Linked DNA regions of Homo sapiens: region 1 is linked to region 2. Evidence: fine-mapped expression QTL. Tissue or cell type: cerebellar hemisphere. Region 2 holds a variant in brackets; the other region holds the start of a gene. All regions are shown on one strand. Distances are from middle to middle. Region 1 holds the start of SYCE1L (synaptonemal complex central element protein 1 like). Region 2 has its middle 31 kb from the start of SYCE1L.

Region 1 (5,382 bases), 31 kb before region 2:
CTGCTGTGGATCAGGTATTGTCCTAGGCTAAGAATTTTGTTTTTAAATTTTTTTAACTTTCATTTTCAAATAACTTTAGACTTAGAAGCTGCAAAAACAATATAAAGAGTTTTTATATTTATATTTATAAAGAGTTATAAAGGGCGTGGTGAAAACCACGCCTGGTCAGATGGTGGTTTTCCTAACTCCATCATTCTTTCTACATTTATTGGCTGGGATTTTACTATAAAGAGTAACATGGGGCCGGACGTGATGGCTCACGCCTGTAATCCCAGCACTTTGGGAGGCTGAGGCAGGCTGATCACTTGAGGTCAGGAGTTCGAGACCAGCCTGGCAAACATGGCAAAACCCCGTCTCTACTAAAAATACAAAAATTAGCTGGGCGTGGTGGTGCGCACCTGTAGTCCCAGCTATTCATAAGGCTGAGGCAGGAGAATCGCTTGAACCTGGGAGGTGGAGGTTGCCGTGAGCCAAGATCGCGCCACTGCACTCCAGCCTGGGCGACAGAGTAAGACTCCATTTCAAAAACAAAAAGGAATAACTTTTCCTTCTCCTATTTATTGAATTTTTAATTTTCTATCAATATTGTCTCATGGATTTTTCTTTAATTCAGTGAGCTAAAATCCTTCTCTAGCATTTATTTTGGTGTTCAGATTGCCTCTGATTTAGCCGGTGGGTACCCTGATTTAGCCAGGCTGATCCCTGTGTCTCTGACACGTCCCCTTCACTATGTGAGCACATCTTACTTGACTTTCTCTATTCCAGTCCTCAACTCAGCCATTTTTCCATGGAGCCCTTATACCTTTTAGTAGAGATTGGAATTTTAAAACCAAGATATGGGCCAGACACGGTGCCTCACGCCTATAATCCCAGCACTTTGGGAGGCTGAGTCGGGGTGGGAGTTGGGGGGAGTGGGCGGCGAGTCACAAGGTCAGGAGTTCGAGACCAGCCTGGCCAACAGGGTGGAACCCCATCTCTACTAAAAATACAAAAAATTAGCTGGATGTGGTGGCATGCGCTTGTATCCCAGCTACTCGGGAGGCTGAGGCAGGAGAATCGCTTGAACCTGGCAGGCGGAGGTTGCAGTGAGCCGAGACCGTGCCACTGCACTCCAGCCTGGGTAACAGAGTAAGACTCTACGTCAAAAACAAAAAAACAAAAACAAACAAAATATATGTTAGGAGCAGAATTTTAAACCAAGTGATCAGGGTGGCCTCCCTGAGCAGATGGCATCTGAGTGGAGTAGGGAGGTATTGAGCTACGTGGATATTAGGAGGAAGAGTACACCTGGCAGAGGGAAAGGACTGATATGCTATGAGGTGGAACCAAGCCTGGCTATGTTTGAGGAATAGCAAGGAAAGGGTAGAGTGGCCGGAGCAGAGGGAGTGAAGGGGAGCGCTCTGGGAGGTGGCACAGGAAAGGCGCTAGTGACCTTGTGGGGTCAGGCCTCTCCATGTGGTATGAGGCATAAATTGAGTTCCTCTTTATATTATTCCCTGGCTGTAGATGATGAAAACATAGTTGTAGGAGCTTAGAGCAGGACCTTGTACACAATAGGTTACTGACAGAATATTAAACATTGTTACTGTTTTCCCCAGTTCCCAATGAGCAAACAGGTCTAGAGAGTACCCACACACACAACCAGCATCATCCAGTTGAAGTCACTAGGTCCAGCTGAAATTGCACAATATCAGCTTACCTACCTTAGCCCAGTATCTAGGCAGCACCTGGTAGGAGGTGCTGCCAGGTACATGTTCCAGGTTGCAGGAGGCAGACATGCAGCTGCACTGGGGTAGGCAGGATTGTCCATAGCCAGCTCTGGCCCATCTGACTCTGTCTCCTCCGAAACCCCCAGGTGACCTCCAAATTCGAGCTCTATACCTGCCTCAGCCCTCTGGTGACCAAGGCAGGTGCAATCTTGGTAGTGACCAAACTCCTGCGCTGGGTGAAGAAAGAGGAGGACCGGCTCTTCATTCGTTACCCACCCAAGTACTCCACACCACCAGCCACCTCTACGGACCAAGCTGCCCATAATGGCTTGTTCACTGGACTCTGATAGTTGGAGCTCCCAGACCAGGCAGTGCTGGGAGCAACCACCTTTGTTTTTTACCTTCTGTCTACCCTGGAAATGTGTGTGGGGGTGTGTCTGTGGCCAGTCATTGTCTCCCTAAGCAATGGGGCAAGGTCTGAGGGCCCACCGATGAGAGAGATGGTGGCAGCCGCCAGGCGAGCAGGCTGCTTTCCCTGCCCAGTCATGCACCTCCCCCTCTGGGGAAATCCTTAGGCCTCCCTCTCCCTTCCCTCTGTCTCATCTCCTCCACTTGGATGATGCTCTAGCCTCTGTCAGGGACTGTCCCCTCCAAACTTGCTTCCGTGGTCTGCCTCCTAGTTGAATCTCAGCCCTGAGTGTCCAGATCTGGCCAAGGTGTCTAGGGTGGCCCACGGGGGTGCTGGAATTGGCACTTCAGGGCCAGGCTATGCTTGGGACTGGCCTGAGGGTATTTTAAAGAAAAAAACTACATAAAAGGCCTAAAAGTAAGACCCACAAGGATATTCCTTTGCCCTTCTTGTACTTTTTTCATCTTTACCCTGCCAGAAATGACCCGCCCTCAATGCTGGCTGCTGCTAACATTAATGAGAAGGTGGCCTTCAGTGTCCACCTGTGGAACCCAGGACACAGCACCTGACTGCACACAGTGGCTGAAATCCAGCATTTTTACATAGGAGATGCACTTAGCCTCTAAGCCTCGTTTTACTCATCTGTGAAACAGAGATAAGTAACCCTCTCTCATGAACTCTTTGATGAGGATTTGTAAACGAAAACAGACTCGAACTATTGTGTACCACCACATAGCACATGCACGTCTGTCCCAGACTTTGACAACCTGCACAAGACAAGCAGCCTAAAGCAGGAGAGACCTCCCTAGGGTTTTGTGTGTGTGCACACTACCCTCACTCCCCAACTGGCCATTACCCTAGTTCTGCCCTTGTTTGTGGAGTTACAGCCTCAAGGTTGTAGCATGTGTGCTGGCAATCAGGGCCGCAGTGTGTTCTGCGCCTGCCCAGAGCTGACTCCTGATTTAACCGCTGGCGTAACCGCGGGTTGCACGCATGCGTGCTGAAAAGCCTTTCACCCTCACGTGGTTTCTTTTTTAACCAGTCATCAAGCGAGGCTCGCGCGCAGGCCCCGCGTTGGAAAATGGCGGGGAAGCTGAAACCTCTGAATGTGGAGGCGCCAGAAGCTACTGAGGAGGCTGAAGGTAGTGAGGGCAAGTGGGCTGCACTCCTTTCTCTCCAACCAGGGCAGAAAGGAGGGAGGATTCGTCCCATTACAATAATGAAATAATGATATTCTAATTTTTTTAAATAAAATGTTAAGCCTTTTGTTATTGAAGAAAAACAATTTTTTAACCGTTCAGCACAGTGGAGATAAATTAACAGGCATATTCTTATCACCGAGATTAACTTTTGTCAACTGTAGTGTATACGTTGTTGAAAGTAAACAACATGTAGTTCAGTACGAAAGTCTTCAAACAAAAGTGGGGCGGTGGGGATGTTCTCATAACAATCACCGTGCTGCAGCCACCCCTTATTAACAGTAATTCCCAGTGTCGCCATTTCACACCTAACACATATGACACTTTGATGGACTCTTAAACCTCCTAATCGAACATGGCCTCCCCCACAGCCTCTTTTCTCCAGGGTATTGACTTGAATGACAGGCAAAGGAGGGTGGAGGGGTGTCGGCCTAGACACTATTGGAAATTGTATTCCATCCAAAAGAAAAAAAAATCTCAGGCCGGGCACGGAGGCTCACGCCTGTAATCCCAGCACTTTGGGAGGCCGAGGCGGGCGGATCACGAGGTTAGGAGTTCGAGGCCAGCCTGACCAACATGGTGAAACACCATCTCTACTAAAAAACTATATATACATATACATATGTGTGTATGTGTATTTATATGTATGTATGTATGTGTGTGTATATATATATATATGTATATGTGTATATATATATATATGTGTATATATATATATATATACACACACTAATCAGCCGGGCGCGGTGGTGTGGGCCTGTAATCGCAGCTACTCAGGAAGCTGAGGCAGGAGAATCACTTGAACCCGAGAGGCGGAGGTTGCAGTGAGCCGAGATCATGTCACTGCACTCCAGCCTGGGTGACAGAGTGAGACTCCGTCTCAAAAGAAAAAAAATTCTCCCTTGGCCGGGCTTGGTGGCTTATGCCTGTAATCCCAGCACTTTGGAAGGCCGAGGCGGGTGGGTCACCTGAGGTCAGGAGTTTGAGACCAGCCTGGCCAGCATGGCGAAACCTCGTCTCTACTAAAAATACAAAAATTGTCCGGGTGTGGTGGCGGGCGCCTGTAGTCCCAGCTACTGGGGAGGCTGAGGCAGGGGAATTGCTTGAACCCGGGAGGCAGAGGTTATCGTGAGCTGACATTGCGCCACTGCACTCCAGCGCGGAAGACAGAGTGAGCAAAAAAAAAAAAAAAAAAAGAAAAAACAAAAAGAAAAAAATCTCCCAAGGCAGTCATGCATTTGTATGCCACTAGCATTTTTTTGTTATAGAAATATTCAAAGTGTACCAACGTAGAGAAAATAGCTTTAAACAAAGCCCATGTGTACCTATCAGTATGCTTTAACTGTTGTCACCTTTCTGCCCCACTTTTATCTATCTCGAACACCCCTTTCTGCACACTCTTTAAACCACTGTATTAACAAACACATTAGACTGCATCCTGCCAGACCTACCCATACAGACATCAAAGTAATGATTATTGCTTATTGCCTGACCTAGGATGTGAGCTCCATGAGAACAGAGACTGTTTACCTCTCGCTCCCCTGCACCTAAAACAATGCCTGCTTGGTGTAAAGTAAGTGCTCAGTAATTTTTTAATGTGTGACCAATGAAATAACTTCAAGAGCAGAGAGCTCTTTTAGATTAGAGGCACATACTAAGTGCCAGCATTCAACAAAAGACAGACGGAAATAAGACAGATGCAAATAGATCTCATTTATTAACTGTGTAATGCAGCTGCCACTGCAATTAAAAAAAAAATTTTAGTATCAACCTTTCAAATTCCTCAAAATTAAAGTTATGACTAACTTCACCAGCAAAGGAAAAATTGAAGGATGTATCAAGTTGCCATTTCTAGCCCATCAAATCGGCTTTATAAAGGGAAGCATAGTATCTGGTATTGACGACCTTGTAGAGAAACAGGCCTTTTCCTGCCTCAGGGAAGAGAGCTGACTCAAAGTAAAGGCTTTGCTAGAGGCAGTCGGCAGAGTATTTTTAGCATCTAAAATGCTCTTCCACTTCGGCAGTGACCATGCGATGTAATCAAAGGAGAATACGTAAGTGTATG
Region 2 (5,382 bases):
AGATGGAGGAAGGGGCTAGTAGGATAGAGGTTTTGAAGTGTAGATTACGAGAGCTAAGGCTGAAGGATTTAAGAATATTTATTCTGAAGAAGAGATACCTGGGTACTAAATATCATCTTTGTATATCTGAGCATATATCATGGGATAAAGGAACCAGAGAGGCAAATGAGGACTTGCTAACAGATACCACTGTCCAGCAGTAGAATCAGCAGCCACGTTGGATGGGGCAAGCTCCATAACCAGAGGCAATCCAACAGGGAAAGCAGCAGGTAACGAGCGTGCCAGAGCCAGTATGGATGATGGTTGGGATGTTAAGGTAAAGGCCTGATTGAAGTTCATGTGTGTGTTGGGCGGGGGGGAGTGTAGAAAGGGAATTCATATATGGAAAGTACCTGCTGTGTTACAGACTCTTACTAACACTTTGAGTCATCCTCTTGCCCATGAGGGGGCTGAGGCTCTGAGAAGTTTTGCAGCCTTCTGTAGTTCTCATAGCTAATACTGCATTTAAACTCAAGTCTATTGATCTTCACAACCATGCCACGCTTTATTCTGAACTCTGTTCCCTTCCAGCTCTGCATTGTTGTTGCTTCCTCATGGGTTGTAACCCAGATAGAAGCCACAAAAGTATATTTCATGAATGGGTACTTTTTACGGTCTCTGGCTAAAGTCACCAGCAGCCAGTGTGGGAGAGAGAGCTTGAAGTCCCTGCTACCAAACCCAATGCCAAGTCAAGCCCCCCTGGATACCTGATAGAGAACATCTGTACCGAAATGCTGTCAGTCAGGGTGAATGTTGCACTGCACCACCTGGATCCCACTTTGGGAACAGAGGGCTTATTCCTGCAGCTGCTAGCAGTACTGCTGCTGCTGGAAAGCTGCCCTCAGTGTCAGTCCCCTTCAAGAACCCCCTCAGCAAGGGTCAACTCCATTAAAGTTATGCCTCTTCTTGGGGGAGGCCACATGCAATAACCATTTGGCTTAGAAGTGTAAAAAAGCCCACGGGTCATGAAGGCCTGACCCTCGTGGCTGAACATGGGGTGGCTTGGAATGGCCAACCCATCTTAAAACTCTCCATGAGGGTGGCTAATGCTTCCATTGAAATTTCTCCCTCTGCTCAATCCTGCTTCCTTTCTTTCCCTTTCTTTCTCTTCCATGGGAGTTGATCCCAAGATCAGTCCCTAATCAACATTCAGAATGCTGATCTCCATTTCAGAGTCAGCTCCAGCAGTCAGCTGCAAAATCTCAGCTCAGCATCTTCCCATGTGGCTTGTCTTCCGTTTCAATTGTTCAAATAAATAAGAGGTCTGGCTACTGAACTGTACTCATTCATTTATTCTTTCATTCAACAAATACTTAACCACCAGCAACGTGGCAGTGAGTGCACTAGGCACTACTAGAACTACTGTAATGAGGAAGGATTCTGTTCTAGCCCTCAATGAGCTAACAGGGAAGAAAGACCATCAGCAAATAATTACATAAAGAATGATGTGATGACTTTATGAGAAGGGTTTTGAAGAACTGCAGGGCACTACCAGTGAGATCACAGGAGTCTAGTCTAATTTAGAGAAATCAGTAAGATCCTCTGAACATGGTGACATTTAATCTGAGACCTAAAGACTAAAGGAGGTGGGTATATGGGAGACGGGGTAATTCTAAACAGAATTAACAGCATTAGGCAGAAAGGATATTTGTATATTTGAGAGAAAGAAAAGCCTGATTGGCAACCACACAGTGAAAGAAACAAATGAAAATGAGGCTTGCACAGATACTATAGGGACTTATAAAATTTTTTTGGTACAATTATAAGCATGAAATAGTTTTATGATGTGACTTGGACTGATGTTGTTTCACATTATTTAATTCTACCAAGAATTGTGTGCATTGTTTGCCATTTCCCCACCACCCTTTTTTTTGAAACAGAGTTTTGTTCTTGTTGCCCAGGCTGGAGTGCAGTGGCGTGATCTCGGCTCACTGCACATCCGCCTCCTGGATTCAAGCAATTCTCCTGCTTCAGCCTCCTGAGTAGCTGGGATTACAGGTGCACACCATCACGCCTGGCTAATTTTTGTATTTTTAGTAGAGATGGGGTTTCACCAGGTTGGCCAGACTGGTCTCGAACTCCTGACCTCAGGTAATCACCCTGCCTTGGCCTCCTAAAGTGCTAGGATTACTGGCATGAGCCACCACGCCCAGTCTTTTCCCCCCTTTTTTTTTAATAGATGGGGGAGGAAACCTAATTTCTGAGAGATTCTGTGTTTTGTTCAAGGTCAAAAAACAGCTCAAATAAGTCAAAGGAGGCCCACCTGGATCCAAAATCTATATACCTTCCACTATATCATATGAGAGTCCTCTGACTGTCTTTAGGGGAATGACATTTTCCATTTGAGTCAATGGAAGCTATAGCTTTACAGAGTAATGACCTTTACCTTATACCCTATTTTAATTCCCTTTAAGCCTGAGGGCCCTTGAATAGTTGGTTTCTACAAAAATGAAGCTGAAAAACAATTACCAAAATATACTAACGACCTCCATGCTATAAAATTATTCACGAGCTAGACCACGGCGAGACTTCTCTAACAAATCCACATCATCCATTTCAAATTTTTAAATTAAATTGATGGCTCTTTAGCTCTGATATGTCACTTTTGTTTTCTTTTCTTTGAGACAGAATTTCACTCTTGTTGCTCAGGCTGGAGTGCAGTGGCACAATCTCGGCTCACCGCAACCTCCACCTCCCAGGTTCAAGCAATTCTCCTGCCTCAGCCTCTGGAATAGCTGGGATTACA[G/T]GCTTGTGCCACCATGCATGGCTAATTTTTTTTTTTTTTTTTTTTTTTTTTTTTTAGTAGGGACAGGGTTTCTCCATGGTGGTCAGGCTGGTCTCGAACTCCCGACCTCAGGGGATCTGCCCGCCTCGGCCTCCCAAAGTGCTGGGATTACAGGCGTGAGCCACTGCGCCTGGCCTGATATGTCACTTTTAAAATTCCAAAGGCCCTTTTCCATGAAAGGATCCAGGAATTACTGGCTTCCGATCACCCTTCACAGTCCTTTGTTCATTTTGCTGAACTAGGGTTGCCATTAGAATGGTTCACTGAAGCTCATTCATTCCGGACATTGCCCAGGTGTCCTGCTGTGAAGAAAATTGATATTTTTATTGTGGCTCTTTCAGTTTGCATTGCAAAGGCAAGTATTTTTGAAATTTTGAAATAGAACTTATAATACTGTGTTAAATTCCTATTGCTTATTTCCTCATATCTGCCGGCTGTGTTCTCACGTCCATCTTTGTGTTTTCTGGAGCGCCAATATCCTAGCTCAGATTGGCATTGCCACTTACATGGCTACGGGAGAACTTCATTTCCCACTCTGCCTCTAGCCTTGTTCATTTCCATTTGTCAGTCACATTGTAGTCAGAACTAATTCACTTATAGCTCTTTACTTCTCTGGTTTCCCATGAACTACAGGGTCAAATCCGAAAACTTTATTCCAGAATGCAAGTCCCTCTCTAATGGTCTTATGTGAACCTACCTTTCCAGCCATACATCCCACTACTACCTCTCACCATTCTGGACCCCTCCCTGTCCACCCGCAACTCATGCAAGGCAAGATTTCTTTTCGAATATGACTTTTCTCCCTGCATGGTGTTTACTCTGATTGTATTTTATCTTCAAACACCAGAAGCTATTCATTTTTAAGTGCCCCTTTATCACATAGCCTTCCTTGACCTCTCTGAGAGCAACCTCTGTTTCCTCTGTGTTTCATCATCAAACTACTTATACCATGTCTAGATGAAGTATGATCATTGATGTTATACACCTTCGTGTGCTGGCTGAGAGCTTACATTCTAAGAAATGAGGTTATACCTTATTAATTTTCATATTATCTCAATAATAAGTATAACAAGTTACTGAGTAATTGCTGTAAGAGGAGAACATCTTTGGAGCATCTAACCAACTCACCATGATTTTTAAAAAATCATCTCCCTCTATCAACAGCACTACATGGTGCTATCATTCCCAACAGTCATGTCGTCAAATGTAATTTTGCTCAATTCACTTGCAGGCATCTGAAGATTATGAAATTTAAAAATAAAATGTAATCACTCACGTGCTTAGTGGCAGGCCCTCTGCTTAATGTTATTGCATAAGCATCAGTCATTCGGGTATGGTCTTTTCCCATTGTGTCATTATAGGTCTTATAGACATTAAAAGAACAATAAAAGTGTGTGTGTTTGTGAGCTAAATGACTTCGGAGAGCAAATTAAAACATTTAGATGAGATGGACAAATTTCTTGAAATATGCAAATCCCTTAAACTGATGCAGGAGGAAATAGAAAATCTGAATAGCTCCATACCTAAATCATTATTTGGAAAAAGTTAAAATTAGGCCCATGTCTCACCATCCACCACAAGAACAAGCAAATAAAGGATCTAATGTAATAATATGAAAGCATACAAGTGCTAGATGGAAACACGGGTGAATTTCTCTTTATTCTGATGTAGGAAAAGGCTTTCTGGCTATGACTCAAAACCCAGAGGTGATAACTTTGACTACATAAAAAAATTTGCATGGAAAGAAATACCATAAATGTTCAAAAATATGTTACATATATTATGGATAAAGATTTAATATCTATAATATATAAAAAACTCTTGAAAGAATAAATTTCAAAAATGAGAATTCTTTAAAATATAAACAGCAAGAATCAAGACTGCTTATGCAGAATTATAAATATGTAAAAATAACAGCAAAATAATGAAAAGGAAATAAACTATTTTTTTTTTTTCCAGATGGAGTTTCACTCTTGTCACCCAGGCTGGAGTATGGTGGTGCCATCTTGGCTCACTGTAACCTCTCCCTCCCAGGTTGAAGTGATTCTCCTGCCTCAGCCTCCCGAGTAGCTGGGATTACAGGCACCCGTCACCAAGCCTGGCTAATTTTTTGTGTCTTTAGTAGAGACGGGGCTTCACCATGTTGGGCAAGCTGGTCTCAAACTCCTCACCTCAGGTGATCTGCCCGTCTTAGCCTCCTAGAGTGCTATAGTTATGAAATAATGACAATTGCTACTTTTTTCCTTTTTTCTACTTCTCTGTGTTTTTGAAATACACTAAGTACATCTTTCTTTTATAAGCAAATAGATGTTATTATAATAAAAAATGTTAAAAGACACAAAGAGATACCATTACAGGCTCACTAATGTGTAAAAATATTAATACACATTGTGGGGAGGTTGTAAAATAACCGGAACACTCAAACATCGCTGGTAGAAGCACAAAGTGGTGCAAACACTTTGAAAAACGGGTAGTTTCTTCTAAATTTAAACACATATTTACCATGACTCAGAAATTCCCCTCCGTGGTATTTACCCAAGAGAAATGAAAATACATAG

The links. PIP is the estimated chance that this variant, and not a neighbour inherited with it, causes the effect.
Region 1: it holds the start of SYCE1L, and the variant in region 2 is the best candidate, but not a certain one, in a credible set for the expression of SYCE1L in cerebellar hemisphere (GTEx, PIP 0.75).

The regions. Positions count from the first base shown.
Region 1 is chr16:77,196,253-77,201,634 of GRCh38, forward strand. SYCE1L (synaptonemal complex central element protein 1 like) reads left to right here and starts at 3,156. Exons shown (of 11, transcript NM_001129979.3): 1 at 3,156-3,260. The coding sequence starts at 3,200. It overlaps MON1B (MON1 vesicular trafficking associated B), which reads left to right. Exons shown (of 6, transcript NM_014940.4): 6 at 1,856-5,382. The coding sequence ends at 2,056. RefSeq lists an enhancer at 808-977.
Region 2 is chr16:77,227,535-77,232,916 of GRCh38, forward strand. No RefSeq gene overlaps it. Among named protein-coding and RNA genes, the nearest start is that of SYCE1L, 31 kb to the left of the region's middle. RefSeq lists an enhancer at 3,137-3,306 and a cis regulatory region at 3,222. The variant G/T (reference allele first, on the strand shown) is at 2,786.